2 separate regions of the Homo sapiens genome follow, and region 1 is linked to region 2. A link means that fine-mapping ties the variant in region 2 to the expression of a gene that starts in the linked region. Tissue or cell type: testis. Region 2 holds a variant in brackets; the other region holds the start of a gene. All regions are shown on one strand. Distances are from middle to middle.

What was found. PIP is the estimated chance that this variant, and not a neighbour inherited with it, causes the effect.
Region 1: FLVCR2 starts here. The variant in region 2 is fine-mapped to the expression of FLVCR2 in testis (GTEx, PIP above 0.99).

What each region holds. Positions count from the first base shown.
Region 1 is chr14:75,574,423-75,582,524 of GRCh38, forward strand. It overlaps FLVCR2 (FLVCR choline and putative heme transporter 2), which reads left to right and starts at 4,198. Exons shown (of 10, transcript NM_017791.3): 1 at 4,198-5,219. The coding sequence starts at 4,551. FLVCR2-AS1 (FLVCR2 antisense RNA 1) reads right to left here and starts at 5,166. Exons shown (of 3, transcript NR_110552.1): 1 at 3,355-5,166; 2 at 1,983-2,123; 3 at 479-671. RefSeq lists an enhancer at 3,304-3,363 and a silencer at 4,074-4,143.
Region 2 is chr14:75,627,581-75,635,682 of GRCh38, forward strand. FLVCR2 (FLVCR choline and putative heme transporter 2) reads left to right here. Exons shown (of 10, transcript NM_017791.3): 4 at 6,049-6,116; 5 at 7,330-7,433. Among named protein-coding and RNA genes, the nearest start is that of ERG28, 29 kb to the right of the region's middle. The variant C/T (reference allele first, on the strand shown) is at 4,730.

The DNA of each region.
Region 1 (8,102 bases), 53 kb before region 2:
AGAGATGGGGTTTCACCATGTTGGCCAGGCCGATCTAGAACTCCTGACCTCAGGTGATCCACCCGCCTCAGCCTCCCAAAGTGCTGGGATTACAGGCATGAGCCACCACGACCAGCCGAGTACACTGCTTTTTATGCCTGGTAGATAGCTGTCTACCCAGGAGTTTCCTTTAGCTGGGTGATTCCCATTGTTTGCCTTTTGTGGCGGATTCCCGGTTTCCTCAGCCTTAACCTCTTCCCCTCTCTAGGTTTCCTTCCTTGTTTTGGTGGAGCACATCCTTCAGCAGCTTCCTGAGAGAGAAGATAAGGCAGTATCATTTGTTGTTTCACTCTCTTCTCAAACTGATTTTTTGGTAGTTTGGATATAGCATTCTAGGTAAGAAACGGTTTTTCTTCAGAAGGCATTGTTCCACTGACTTCAAATTTCCAGGCTTGAGGCAACTGTGTTGATATTTTGTATCTGGTTTTTTTTTTTTAACTTTTTCTGATTTTTTAAAATCTCTGAAATCCTGTTGGATCTCCTCTTTGTCTCCAGTTTTGTAAAATTTCATGGTGATATGCAGTACAACTCAATTCTACAGATACGTATTGAGAGCGTGTGTTACATAGTTTATCTCACTAAACACTCCAAAATATACAAAAATATCCACAAGTCCTGAGACAGCTAGAAATCTGAGGGAAGTGGGGGAGATAAGGCAAACAGAATATTGATGAGCATGTAGTATCACACATATAAATTATGCATGTAAAACTTGTAAGGGCAACATTTTCACAAATTCCAAGTGTTGATATTTTTAAGAAAGAATAATGCCGGCTCCCAACCTGATTCATTCTGTTAGAAATTTGGCCTTCCCCTGCACTCAACAAACTCCTTACCTCTTAAATCTATAGCTCTGTTTGGCTAGTAGTAAGCTATAAATAAGAGGGTGATGTTTTGGCTTTGAATCCAGGAGTTGCTGATAGCCTCCAGTGGGCTGACTTAACTATCATTCTGCAAGAGGCCACACAAGCTTGAGTTCAATGCCAGAGGTTCGTTCCCTCAAGCTTCCTAAGGTGTCAGTTGGAATAGAGCCAGGAACCAGGAACCAGAGCCCCCTTTCAGGAAGCAATCCCTAAAATGTATTTCTCCTTACCCTTCAAAGTGTACCTATAGGTACTGATAGATAGAACATCATAAAGATAGATATGCTACATAGTAAGAACATCATAAAGATAGATATGCTACATAGTAAGCTGCTCAATACATGTTTTTTCAATGGGATGAATACAGAATATTTCTCTCTATGTAGTATCTACCCAATATTTATAGAGATGACCCCAACACCCTACCCCCCACATTAGGAATCAGCCAAGAGTCATCCCTACCCTGGTGGCTCCCAGAATATGATCATTATTATTGAAAACAGTTTATGCATATTAGCTTGTTTAATTCTCACAGCAATTCTATGAGGCAGGTTTTTGTTTGTTTTGTTTTTTTGTTTTTGAGACAGAGTCTCGCTCTGTCTCTCAGGCTGGAATGCAGTAGTGCCATCTCAGCTCACTGCAGCCTCTGCCTCCCAGGTTCAAGTGATTCTCCTGCCTCAGCCTCCCAAGTAGCTGAGATTACAGGCATGTGCCACCACACCTGGCTAATTTTTGTATTTTTAGTAGAGACGGGGTTTCACCATGTTGGCCAGGGTGGTCTTGAACTCCTGACCTCAAGTGATCCACCCATCTCGGCATCCCGAAGTGCTGAGATTACAAGTGTGAGCCACCGTGCCAGGCTGGAGGCAGGTATTTTTAATCCTTATTTGATAGATTCAGAAACTGAAGAATAGAGAGGTCAAGTGACTTGCTCAAGATACCAAAGCTAAGAATGACAAAACAGAGCTTCAAGTCTAAGCAGACCCAACCCAGATCTCACAACAGATCCAGCTCGTTCCACCACAAAAGCAATTCCAAATCTCACTTGAATCCCAGGTTAGACCCCTTGGAATCTCTCACCAAGCTGAAGGGCTGCCCCAGAAGAGCTCATGGGAAAGGCCACGTGGAAGGAGCACCCATTTTATTGCTGCTTGTTCTGATGCTATTTCACTATAGGACGCTGAGTAACACACCCGCCTCTCCAGGCCTCAGTTTCCTTATCTGTAAAATGAAGTTAAGAATATATTATGAAGAGTTTTGGAAGAGGCCCATGATGACCGAGGGAAAAGAAGCAGTGAGAGGTCTCAGAAGGCCTTCTAAAAGAACAGAGTTCTGTGCTCCCTGGAGAATGATGGGAAACACAGGAGGAATAGTGACAATACGAGATGTTAAATTACTGTAGAAATTCTTAGATCTGAGTCTGAACTCCCTCTCCAAATATTCCATTATAATCCAAGACTCTATAGTTTCTACCAAAAAGTAGGTGCCTTCAAGCAGGGAGTGATCATTTGAATCTAGTTCTCTCCTGGGAATCAGTGGTTCTAACTTGGCTGCACGTTTGGATGACCAGCGGAGCTTGTGACATGCAGATGTTCAGGTCCACCCTCGGAGATCGCTAAATGGGGTGTTGCCCGAACACTTGGGATATTAAGAGTTTCTTCATATGATTCTAATGTGCAGACAAAATGGAGAGCCACTTCCCAGAGCTTCAAGTTATTCATTTTCTGGTCTGAAGTTTAACAAAGAAAAAAAAAATAAAGAAGCAGTGATGCCCAGTAGCTCTCAAAATTTAATGTGTAAACAAATGAATCTCCTGGGCATCTTGTTAAAATGCAGCTTTCAATTCAGTGGGTCTAGGTTGGGCCTGACAACCTTCTTGGTTGTTTTGTGGTTGCCGTTTTGTTTTTTAAGGCCTTAACACTGGAGGGGATTCTGGCCTTCTAAAAAGCTCCCACAGGTGCCCACGCTGCTAACCACAGACTGTGCTTGAATAGCTAGGCTACAGCTTGAATGATTACAGACTTGAACGAGAATTATGGCTCTTCTTGCCAGCTGGGACCTTCAGAAAGAAGTTACTTCACTTCTCTGAGTCTGGGTTTTCTTGTCTATAAAATTTAGGCCAGCAATAGTAACTTTATCACAGAATTCTTGTGATGCATAAATGAGCTAATGCATTCAATTTGTTTAGCACTGTACAACAAATGTTAGCTTTTTGCTAGGATAGCCAGCATTCGCGGAATGCTTACTATGTGGCAGGAATTTTCTAAGTGCATTCGTGTATTAATTCATTCAAGTCTCAGAACAACACGGTGAGGTAGGTACTATTATTTCATCATTTCCATTTTACAGATGAAGAAACTGAAGCGCAGAGAGGTGGAGTTCCTTGGTCTACAGTGGCACCTCATTGTAGCTAAGCTGGTGTTTGAACTCAGGGAGAATTTGGGCTCCTTACCAGGATCCCTCGCCAAGGACAGAGGTCAGTGCAACGAGTCGAGGGTTTGCCCTTTGAAATGGGCTAGGACCGGCAGGTGGCAGACTAGGGCTGCTTGAGTTCAAAGACCGCTTCCAAGACCAAGCCCGGAGCCAGCTCTGTGCTAAGCGTTCCATCACACAACCGCGGACAGCTTCTTCGGCTTCTTCAAACTCTCCTTTCCCTCCCCCGCACCCTAGGGTCTTCGCCCAGAATCCATCAGGAAAAATAGCCCCACATAACAGGTTCAAATCTAACCTCCCCAAGACAAAACCACGTCCGCAGGGAAAGAAGCGAGTAAAGCGAGTTTTCTGTAACTCCCCTTTAACCCAGGAGCGCAACCAGCCCGGGAAATCTACAAATCTCTCTTTAGTTCAGCAAAGGGCTGGGAGCCTAAGCCAAGGGGGAGAAAGTTGGGGAATCCCTCTTGAATTCCCCAGAACACTTAGGTGGCGCCGGGCTTTGGTGCACGCGCGCAGGGCATGCGGACAGGCACCGGAGAGGCTCTATTTTGGGCATTACTTCGGGAAGGCGGATCTTCTTGCAGGGTCCGCTGATAGCGGGTGGCAAATGAATATGAGGGGCAGTGCAAAGGGTGGGGGTTAACCGGGCGGTTTCCATGGCGCCCGGGGCGTGGGGGAGGAATGCATCCCGCAAGCTGTGGCGAAACAACTGCTCTGCCCGGAGGACCGGGCTCGAGAAGGCAAGAGACACTGGGTCGGGGGTGGAGTGGTGGCGGGGGGGTTGGGGGCGGAAGAAGCCAGGCAGGACGGGGGCGGGGCGGTCACGTGTGCCCGACTGGGCGAGGCCCCAAGCTGGCCCGGGAGAGGACTCTGCGGGCGAAGTGGCTGCGCAAGGAGAGAACTTTTCCTGCACAAGGAACGCCTCGTGGGGAGACCCAAGGCAGGAGCGGTCCGGAGCCGGCTGCGGCGTGTGCGGCCGGCCTTGGGACAGCGATCGCCGCGGGTGGCAACAGAGAGCCCCAAGCAAAAGTGGGAGCAGGAGCTTGGAGGTGAGCACAGGAAGCCCCACTTGAGGCTTTTACGCAGCCTCTAGTCTCTGTTTCTTCTGGAATAGGCAAGTGTCCTTTCAACTCTAAGAGACCAGCAGAGGCCACTGTCCCTTAAGACTGCCGGAGTCCTCACCACTTCTCCAGGATTCCAGAGGAGACTGTGGCGATGGTGAATGAAGGTCCCAACCAGGAAGAGAGCGATGACACCCCTGTGCCGGAGTCCGCACTCCAAGCGGACCCCAGCGTCTCGGTCCATCCCAGCGTCTCGGTCCATCCCAGCGTCTCCATCAACCCCAGCGTCTCTGTCCACCCCAGCAGTTCGGCCCACCCCAGTGCCTTAGCCCAACCCAGTGGCTTGGCTCACCCCAGTAGCTCGGGCCCTGAGGACCTCAGCGTGATCAAGGTGAGCAGGCGCCGTTGGGCCGTGGTCCTGGTGTTTAGCTGCTACTCCATGTGCAACTCCTTTCAGTGGATCCAGTACGGCTCCATCAATAACATCTTCATGCACTTCTACGGTGTCAGTGCCTTTGCCATTGACTGGCTGTCCATGTGCTACATGCTGACTTACATCCCTCTGCTCCTGCCAGTGGCTTGGCTGCTGGAGAAGTTCGGCCTGCGCACCATTGCTCTCACTGGCTCGGCTCTCAACTGCCTGGGGGCCTGGGTGAAGCTGGGCAGCCTGAAGCCGCATCTCTTTCCGGTCACCGTGGTGGGCCAGCTCATCTGCTCTGTGGCCCAGGTTTTCATCCTGGGCATGCCCTCCCGCATCGCTTCCGTCTGGTTCGGGGCTAATGAGGTTTCAACAGCCTGCTCCGTGGCTGTCTTTGGCAATCAGGTAGGTAGAACAGTTTGTGAATGTTCCCAGGGGCGTGTGTTAGATTGCACCTAACTATTGGGTGTGGTAGGCTATAATTTGCTGATTGTCCAACAGTGTTTGTGACTCTGGGTGACAGTAACTGGGTGTGACAGGCAGTGATTGTGATGCTGTAAGAGAGGCGGGAAACAAAAGCAGGGGGACCTGCTCTTTCATCCACAGTTGCTCTTGCCCCAGCCAAAAGCATGCTTCTAGAACATACTATACCTTCGCTGTGTCGTTCTCGAACCTGTGTCAGTCCACCAACTTAGACCTGTAATTTCAGGAATGCTCTTCTGTCTGGCAGCAGCCCCTGGGCATCAGACTATTCTGGTGTCATCAGAACTTGGCAGTGCTTTCAGTTGGACCAACCAGCTTTCCTAGAGTGCAGTATCTCCTCTACTGCATAGAATTGCAAAGCCATGCCTGGTGGTGTTTGGCACTGCTTTTACCTTGTTTTACACACAGCTGAAGCCAGGACAGTGGGAGCAGTGCTTTGTGCCAAACTCCTTGCCTGGGATTTAGAGCCAAGTCCAGCAGGATGGAGTAGAAATCTCACTCTGAGTTTCCATGGCCTAGAAAGGGTAGTTCATGTCTTAATCTTTTTCTCTTTCTTTCTTATTGGAAGGAGAAGCTCAAATTCTTTGCATCTCAATGTGGTTATGATCCAGAAAGCTGGGCAGGTTGTGAACCTGAATGCCGTCTCCAAATACTCGAAGCAAATATTTATGGGAATATTTAAAGCAAACGTCCTTTAGCCAGACCACTGCCTCCCAGTCTCGCATCTTTCCAAGCACGTACAGTCCTGGCTGTGTGTTTAACAAAGGATTGGTAATCCTGTCTCACACGTCCATGTGAAGAGACCACCAAACAGGCTTTGTGTGAGCAACAAGGCTGTTTATTTCACCTGGGTGTAAGCAGGCTGAGTCTGAAAAAGGAGTCAGCAAAGGGTGGTGGATTATCATCAGTTCTTATAGGTTTTGGGATAGGTGGTGGAGTTAGGAGCAATGTTTTTCAGACAGGGTGGATCTCAAAGTACATTCTCAAGGGTGGGGAGAATTACAAAGAGCCTTCTTAAGGGTGGGGGAAATTACAAAGTACATTGATCAATTAGGGTGGGGCGAAACAAATCACAATGGTGGAATGAAATCAGTTAAGGCTATTTTCACTTTTTTTGTGGATCTTCAGTTGCTTCAGGCAATCTGGATTGCCTGAAGCATGCAGGTCACAGGGGATAGGATGGCTTAGCTTGGGCTCAGAGGCCTGACATTCCTGTCTTCTTATATTAATAAGAAAAGCAAAACAAAATAGTGAAGTGTTGGAGCAGCGAAAAATTTTGGGGGTGGTATGGAGAGATAATGGGAGATGTTTCTCAGGACTGCTTCGAGCGGGATTAGGGGCAGCGTGGGAACCTACAGTGGGAGAGACTCAGCTGAAGAACGGTTTTGGGGTAAGGGGTGATACTGTGGGGTTGTTAGAAGAAACATTGGTCGTATAGAATGATTGGTGATGGCCTGGATGCGGTTTTGTATGAATTGAGAAACTAAACGGAAGACACAAGGTCTGAAAAAGAGAAGGAGAAAAACAGGTATTAAAGGACTAAGAATTGGGAGGACCTAGGACATCTAATTAGAGAGTGTCCAAAGGGGTCCAAGGGGATTTAGCATAATTACTTGTTTGTTTGGTGAGTTTTTGGGCTCTATTCTTGACAGAGTCCTCTTTTTTAAGTTTGAAGCTGAGCTTGGTGAGGTGTGTTTTTAAAAGACCGTTAGTCCATTCTACCTTTCTTGAAGATTGAGGACGGTAAGGGGTATGAAGGTTTTACTGAATACCAAGAGCCTGAGAAACTGCTTGGGTGATTCCACTAGTAAAGGCTGGTCCGTTATTGGACTGTATAGAGGTGGGAAGGCCAAACTGAGGAATTATGTCTGACAGAAGGGAAGAAATGACCGCAGTGGCCTTCTCAGACCCTGTGGGAAAGGCCTCTACCCATCCAGTGAAAGTGTCTACCCAGACCAAGAGGTATTTTAGTTTCCTGACTCGGGGCATGTGAGTAAAGTCAATTTGCCAGTCCTGGGCGGGGGCAAATCCCCAAGCTTGATATGTAGGGAAGGGAGGGGGCCTGAACAATCCCTGAGGAGTAGTAGAATAGCAAATGGAACACTGAGAAGTGATTTCCTTTAGGATAGATTTCCATGATGGAAAGGAAATGAGAGGTTCTAAGAGGCGGGAACCCACATGGAAGAGGTTATGAAATGACAACAGAATAGAATGGGCCTGTGAGGCTGAAAGGAGATATTTTCCTTGGTCCAAGAACCGTTTGCCTTGTGTGGGAAGAGATTGGTAGGTTGAAGTTTCAGTGGGAGAGTAGGTGGGAGTGACCGATGAGAAGGAGAAAAACTGGCCGTGAGGGACAGAAGTTGTAATGCTAGCTGCTTCTTTAGCTACCATATCAGCATAAGCATTGCCCTGAGTGATGAGATCTGATGCCTTTTGATGGCCCTTGCAGTGTATGACTCCAGCTTCCTTTGGAAGTAAAGCAGCCTTGAGAAGAGTTTTTATTAAGGAGGCATTAATGATGGAGGACCCTTGCATAGTGAGGAAACCTCTTTCAGCCCATATAACAGCATGGTGGTGTAGGATATGGAAGGCCTATTTAGAGTCAGTATAAATATTGACATGTAGTCCCTTCGCAAGAGTGAGGGCTCGAGTTAAGGCAATGAGTTTGGCTTGCTGAGAGGTAGTGGAGGGGGGCAGAAAGTATATGCATCAGGTGTGAGGAAGAAAATAGATTTTGGAAGTTATGAGAACTGTAGAGAGTGAGTTGAGCATAGTTTGTGATTTTGAGGGCCTCTAAAAGTATTA
Region 2 (8,102 bases):
AGCTCCACCCCTGAGAATTACTATTTGACCTACCTAGCAGGTCCCCGGAAAAGCCCTATTCATAGGACATGTTGCTATTTAACCTGACTTGGAGTTTGCTAATGGGAAAAGCCCTATTGCCAGGGCATTTGTTGAAAACAGTCAATGGCACTGCTTAACATTGTAGCTGCCTGCAGTGGGGATAACAGTTGGGGTGAACAAGAGGCTGCCTGAAAATGCTGAAAGGAAACTCTGGAGAATGTGATGTCCATATGGGGTTCTTTGCCAAAAAGAAAATGATTCTTAGACTTAATCACAGATTTGAAAAAATTTTTGACGGAGGAATCATGTTAATTGCTTTACATGCATTATCTCATTTAATTTTCAAAACAAACCCATGACATAGCCCTTTGTTTCATTTTATACATGAGGAAACTGAGGCTCTAGAGTTTTAGCTTCTTGCCTATAGGGCGAGAACTATAGGCACTTACTCCAACTGTTAATCTTTGCTTTCTTTTCCTACTGTGTTTGTTCCAAATTAAAACAAACAAAAACAAAAACAATTTTTTTTTTTAAACAGAGTCTTACTCTGTCGCCCAAGCTGGAGTGCAGTGGCATGATCTCGGCTCACTGCAACCTCCACCTTCCAGGTTTGAGCAATTCTCTTGACTCAGCCTCCCGAGTAGCTGGGATTACAGGTACCCGCCACCACATCCAGGGAATTTTTGTGTTTTTAGTAGAGACAGGGTTTCACCATGTTGACCAGGCTGGTCTCGAACTCCTGACCTCAGGTGATCTGCCCGCCTTGGCCTCCCAACAAAAACAATTTTCTAAAATGCCCTCTATCAATTCAACTAGATGCTTTGAAATCCTCCAGAATTACCCCAGTCCTCCTAATCCCCTTGCAGTTTCAGATTGGACTTTGAAGAACAAAATGGTTCATACTTTTTACATTGTACACATAGTGTTCATATTTAGCTCTGAATTATATGCATTTAAAGAGCATGTGGCTAGGAATTAAGCAGGCAACAGCATTTCACAGGCACATGTACTGGACATGGGTGGACATGTCTTGGGTTAAGAGCCTTGAGTGCTGGACTCGTAAGTTCAGAGTTGGCTCATAAGAAATGGGAGGTCTGAGTTTTGGTGTCAGCTCTGCCAGATACTGAGTGTACCACCTTCATCCATCTGTGCTGCCCATCCTTCATCTCTTTAATACTCTCCACCCCCACTAGAAAACAGTAATGATACTTATTTCCCATTGGAGTGTTCTGAATGGAAGTGAAAGCTTTTAATGCAGTTGAGAATAAAGACATGGCATGCCTCCAGACTGCCAGTCTGCCATTGCCAGACTGCAATGCTATTGCATTGGTAAACTTACTGGTTTCCAGCGTTGCTTCTTTGGTCCAAACCAGATTTCACTAAGAGGGGGAGTAACTGTCCTGCAGCTGGTGGTATTGTATTTGTAGTGGCTTTTCAAGTGGTTCTCCCAGCTGATGAGTCAACTGCCCAGAACTGAGGTGCAGCGATAATTGAAGGCCTTGGAGGAAATCGAGGGTCCAAGTGTTGCTGGCTTTTCCCTAGACTTCTGGCTACACTCTTAGAGGTAGGGTTGAGAGATAAAATAAAGACCATCCAGTTAATCTGAATTTCAGATAAACAACAAATACTTTTAATATAAATATGTCTTATGCAATATTTGTGGCATATTTATACTAAGAACTATTATTTATTATAAATGTATTTATTTGCTATTTTTTTTCAAAATCTGGCAATTCAGTTTAGAGGGGGAGAGGTGCAGGGGTGGAGCTCGTGCTTGATGTTGCGGAAATATCATATCAGTAAGAAACTGCCAGTAAAACACCCTTCCTCTCTCCTTTAACTTTGGCAATGTGGGAAGACTCAGGGAACCAGAAATTCCACCTGTCTGCCAGTGTCTTTGGTGTGTTTCACAGTAGGGTAGGGTGGGATGGAGAAAGGAACCTTCCTCTGGCTACCTTCTCTTTGTGTCTCTGGTGTGTTTCACAGTAGGGTAGGGTGGGATGGAGAAAGGAACCTTCCTCTGGCTACCTTCTCTTTGTGTCTCTGGATCTTGCATTCACATGGCCTCCTCTAATGTCTTATTATCAATGGCATAACAACTGCCCTGTTGAAAAGAATTGTTGAAAAGGCTTCTCTTCTAGAAAATGGCATACTCAAAGGGCGTACTTTTCCCATAGTTATGCCCCAGACTTGCTGCCAGCAAGATTATTCATGCTTCTGAATAAACTTGCAGTGCCTCTGGCATCTGAACTCAGAGCCTCAACTTGTGTATCCCAAGGTTCACCTTCCCTTGGGGCTCTCAGCACTTTATCATTGCTCCACCTACATGGACCTAGGGAGGGGGCTTCATGCCCCCTCTAAAATCCTGGCTGAGGAGTGGGCATAAAATCCTCCAGATTCCTGGGAGCTTTGCCGAGGTCAAGCTGGCCCTTTAAAACAAGGACTAAAGGGAAACGCAGAATAACCAAAACCCAAAGATATGATCTGGGGTCAGTGTTTCCCAGACTTCCCTGAGGATAGGACCCCCTGGGGTGCTTGATTGAATGTGTGCATAGATTTCTGGAAATTCAGATTCAGAAAGTTTGGGTTGGGGCCTAGGAATCTGCTTTCTACCAGCATCCCAGATAATTCTGACTTGCAGCAGAGTTGAGAACCTCTGAGGTAGCTGTGTGATGGGTCTTGAAGCGCCTTCCCATCCCAGCTGCCTCCATGTTAACCCCACCACCTGGGAGCCTGGGTCTGGTCCCTGATCTTTTGTATCTTGAAGGCCATGTATTCTCAAATTCCAGACATTTTAACAAGTGCATTGGGGTTTTATTGTTGTAGTTGCTAAAGATGCAGATTCCTGGGCCCCATTCCAAGAGATTCTGATTCAGTAGGTCTATGGTAGGGCCTCAAAATCTGCAGTTTTAAACTTTAAGGAATTCTAATGTCAGTAGTCACCGGAACACAGTTTGAATAAAATTGTTATTGGCTGGGCTTGATGGCTCACACCTGTAATCCCAGCACTTTGGGTGGCCAAAGTGGGAGGATCGTTTGAGGTCAGGAATTCAAGACCAGCCTGGTAAACATAGCGAGACCCCAAAGAAATTTTTTACAAAGAAAAAAATTGTTTTTGACAAAGGAGAGAAAGAGACTCAGAATGATGACAGAGTCCTTTCTGCCTCTCTAAAGCCTGCCTCCTCAGTAAGTGGCACTACTCCCAGGTGACTGATTCCAGGAATGACCAGGCCTTTCAGGGAAGATCACATTTTCTCTTCCCTGGCCCAGCAGGCTCACCTTGCTGAGGATGATCAGACCTGAATAGAATGCAGTCACCTGTACTCCTGTAAGGGGTACTCACACAGGAAGGAGCATGCATTTCATTCCTGCCCTTCTGTGTGGGATGCCCAACCCCTTTGTTTTGGCAGTAGAGTGGACTTACGCTGGTTAACTGTGTCTGGCAAACTTTGACAATATGGTGAGGGACATCTAGACCAAAGATGGATTCAGAAAACATACATAAGCTCCTAAATCCTCTAAGGTGGGGCTGCAGAAACAGTGGAACAGATTGGCAGCCCTCCAGGATGAACCCCTGCTCTTCCTTCCCTCTCGCCGCCCTTTAGCCCCGCTTCAGTCTGCTGTCTGGCCTGGAGCAGGGATGGCTGTTGTTTAACCACATTGCTCTAGGGAGCCAGTGCTTCCACCTGGAGCACGATCAGAATCACCTGGGAGGCTTATTCAAATGCAAATTGCCGGGGGCCTCACTCCCAGAGTTTCTGCTGCAGTAGGTCTGGGGTGGAACAGAGACCACACTTTGGAAACTATTTCACTAAACCATTGAGCCCCAGAAAAACCACTCAGCTTCAGCAGTATGGGCCAACCTGTTCAGGACTCTGTTCCCCAGGTCTTTATCAGGACCAGTGAGCACTGGTGTATTTTTTTTGCTCCCAGTCCTTCTGGATAATTTCCTTTCTTTTTCTGTGGATTCTGCCATCCTTGGCTCATCCCAGTTAGCAAAGCAGCTGTTCCCCTGAAGCTAAGCCTGAGTTGGAACATTCCTTGCCCTTTGCAGTATCAGGCTAGGGCAGGCAAGAGGCTTAGAGAGGAGCGGGAGGAATGAATGGGAAGACGGGAGGAGACTATTTTCTTTCTTCTCCTTCCCACGCTCCACCTCACTTGGCTTTTCAGGAATGTCTCCTTACGGGATCTCTTCACTCGGAAATGGACTTTCTAAGTGGCTGAGTATGTACTATGAAGGGCAGATGGGAATGCTGCTTGAATGAGATGTTGCTGAGAGCCTCATGATCATTGCAACCATCAGCCTGTCAGTTGTAGTGATGTTTGGGGACATGTCTGGGTTGGTTGGCCCACTGTGGCTCACTGTGCTGCTCACTGTGTGCACAGTTGGCCCACTGTGCTGCTCAGGAGACTGCATTGAGCCCAACCTTGTAGCATCCCTGGGGTGAACTGCTGGGAGAGGCTGGGACATGAGGAAATTGTTCATGACCTGAGCTGGGAAAATCTGATTCAATAATCAGCTTTGTGAGGATGTAAAGCAGAGTGATTAAGATCAAGAAATCTGGAGCCACAGGGCCTGAGTTCAAATCCAGCTCCATCACTTAATACCTGTGTGATTGCAAAGCAAATTATTTCCCATTTTGCAAGATAATTTGACCTTCGCTTAACTTTGTATCTTTTACTCCCTGGGAACCTGATAAAGGGAGTA[C/T]GTCAACTACCTTTAGGCAACATTGCTTATGATAAAAATGTCCTCTGGTGATACAAATGGACAGAGAGACCTATTCATTCTTGTGGGAAGCCATTCTTTGTGCTTCTTGGAGTACAATGACTCTTTTCACTGGCCTGTCACTTATGGGGCCCCTGGAAGCTACCCCTACGGAATTGTTACAAGTAATAGTGGTGCCTGTGAGCATTAAGCCAGGGTGGTTGCCATACCCACCTTCCCTTGCACCTTAGCCATCATCTGAAAGACAGTAGCTTCCGGAAGGCTATATGAACTGGGGTTCTATGGATTGGTTCCATTGAAGAGGAACTCCTGAGGCTGCCCTGTCCACAAGCTATGTGTCCTGACTTACACCCTTCCAAGTAAATCTAATATGGAGTGTGCCGGTGGTAGTCTTGTGAGCCTCAATGTTTAGTTAAAGTTAGAAAGACCCCCGGTGGGCATTATGGAGTGGCAGTACTTATTATTTTAACTGTGTGTGCATCTTTATTATCTCTAAAATGGTGACGATAATACTACCTACTTTCTAGAGTTGTCATAAAGTGTCTAATCCATAGGTATGTGCAGCCGCCATTGTCATCATCATCATCACCATTGAAGGGAGGCCAGGAGGCCTTTTCTCCTTTGGGTCAGTTCCAGTCTCAGCTACTCACTTGCTGTATGACTTTGGGCAAATGACCTTATTCGCTAAAGATACAGCCTTTCACAGCATATTCTAGGTGCTCCTTTGGTGAATGAATTGGTAAAGTAGGAGAGTCAACTGAATGCTCTTTAGGATCTCTTCTAGTTTCATGTAATAGATTTTGTGTGACATTGAATCAGCAAAGAAAGTTGGAGGAGGAATGGAGAAAGAGGAGAGAAATCACCTGCAGAGGGATGGTGTCAGATGTCAGAGGTCTGGAGCAGCCTCAAGAAGGGGCAGGGTCATCAGGAAGAGGAGGGTGTCCAGGACTTCTACTGACCACCCCTTAGATCTACCCAACGCTTAAGAAGAATGTAGATGACTCTGCCCTGGGAGTAATACTCAACAGAATCTATTTTCCAGGGCAAATTAAAGGGATCAGAGAGCAATAGTGTGTGGCTAAGGGAAGGTTAAATGGTTACTTTTGGTTGTTTTGAAGTATTTCTTTGAGAAAACTGCAGAGTAGCCTCAGACCTCCCTGGAGTTTTCTTCTCTGAGGATACTGCTCAGAGTGGCAGTGAGATGAGGATTTCTGCCCACCCCCCAAATGCTGGGGGAGAAGTTAGCAATGGCCCCAGAAGAAAGCTGACCCTAATGTTGTATTTCTCGCTCCCTTCTTCAGGTCTGAATGCTGGTGCTTTTTATGCCTTGTCCACTCTTCTGAATCGCATGGTGATCTGGCACTACCCGGTAAGGGAGTTCCCTAAGCATGTTGGGCCTCAAGATGATATAGTTTCTAAGTCTGTCTTGGCAGGACCTGGGATGACCGTTAAGTCTTCATTCCCCCCAGTTCTAGGTAGGGTGATATGGTGGTATGCTTATGGGATTTGGAGGGAGATGGCCCTAGATCTCAACCCTAGCTTTGGTGTTACTAAACTGTGTGATGGCTTGACAGTGTGACAAGCTAGTTAGTGTTTCTGAGCTCTCATTTTTTTTTTTTTCTGCAAAAGAAGCATAATTGCTTCTTGCAAGGTTCTTTTTAGGATCAGAGAGTAAATAATGACGCTTGTGTATGTATACATAATTATATGTGATACATGTATTTATTATACAGCATAGTGCCTGGCAACACTGTTGGCAAATATATATATAAAATATTTCTGAATTTAAATGTTTCCAGAACCCACGAGGGCTGGGCTGGATGCTGGGAATGGAATACTGAGTGGCCTGGAGTCAGGAATACGGAGATGCAACCCTCTTTTGAAAGGACTAGGCTCTCACACTTGCAGAAGGGGTAGACTATATGGCTAAGTGTCCTAGTTTTGGAGTTCAAAGGCCTGAGTTCAGATCCTAGCTTTGAACTTAACATATGCCTTGTGACCTTGGGCTAGTAGGTTAATTTCATTGTGCCTGTTTCTTCATCTGCAAAATGGAGAAGACTGACTCCTAACCTTATGATGGGGAATGGCGAGGAGTAAATGAGATAATGATATAAAACCTTAGGCATGGTGCCTGGCTTATAGTAAGCACTCAAAAATATATAACTATTATCTTTCCATTCCTCTTGGCATTGATAGTTCAAAAAAACCTAAGAATGGAAATTTTAACATATATATTTTAAATTCCCCATCTGTGAAATGGAATTAATGACAGATAAGATAGAAGAGTTGCTGTGAGGTTTACATTTTTTAAAAAATTTGCCTAAAAGTAGTTCTAAGAACAGATTTGGTTCATCCTTGTCACTCCAGCATCCAATATCATGCACACACAGTCAGGGTTATATTGTTGGGAGGAGTAGTTATTCTAGAATTTTCTCCTAGGCCATCTTGTCCCGATATGTTCTGAATATTGACTCTGATGGAGCTTGAGTTACCTGCCTTTGTTCCTTCACCCCATGGTGACTGTGCTCTGTCCTGGGTCTTGTCCCATCGCCGGGTGATCTTTGGGGTTATGGTTTCCCCAGGGGGAAGAAGTGAATGCTGGAAGAATTGGCCTGACGATCGTCATTGCAGGAATGCTTGGGGCTGTGATCTCAGGAATCTGGCTGGATAGGTCCAAAACCTACAAGTAAGTGACTCATCCTCTTGGACTGAGAATTGGGGACCTGTTTTTTGAAATGACATATTCATAAGCAGTGTGACTCCAAGTCATTGTTTGGAGATCCTAGTGGCCAAGCAGGTCATTCAAGTTTGACTTCTCTGAGCCTCACTTTCCTCATTTATCAAATGAGGGAAGCTATACCCGTCTTAAGATCCCCACAGGATCTTAGGAAGATGGGAGCTACTGGACTTGAAGGCCTAGCATAGTCCTCTTCCCCATCCCCACTCTCTAAGTAGCTTTGTGAAAGCAGCAGAGGAGGGAGAAATGAAAATGAATGGGGAAAAAAAATCTCAGCGGTGGAAAATTTGTGGAAACCCCAAAGAGTGGAGATGAGGAGGAGGTGATTTCACTCTCCTGTTCTCATGGCACCTTGTGGACCCCATGGGGTTGACCAAGGTACTCTGAGCTTTCTCCAGTTTGCAGTGTATATTATTGTGCAATTATTTATACCTTGTTGGTAAATATTATAACTTACTTTGGACCTGAATGCCCAGTGCATTTCTAAGAGCCTGGAGCTATTTTAAAAGGTTTTATCAGGCTGGGCGCAGTGACTCACATCTGTAATCCCAGCACTTTGGGAGGCCGAGGCAGGAGGATTGCTTGAGTCTAGGAGCTCAAAACCAGCCTGGGCAACAT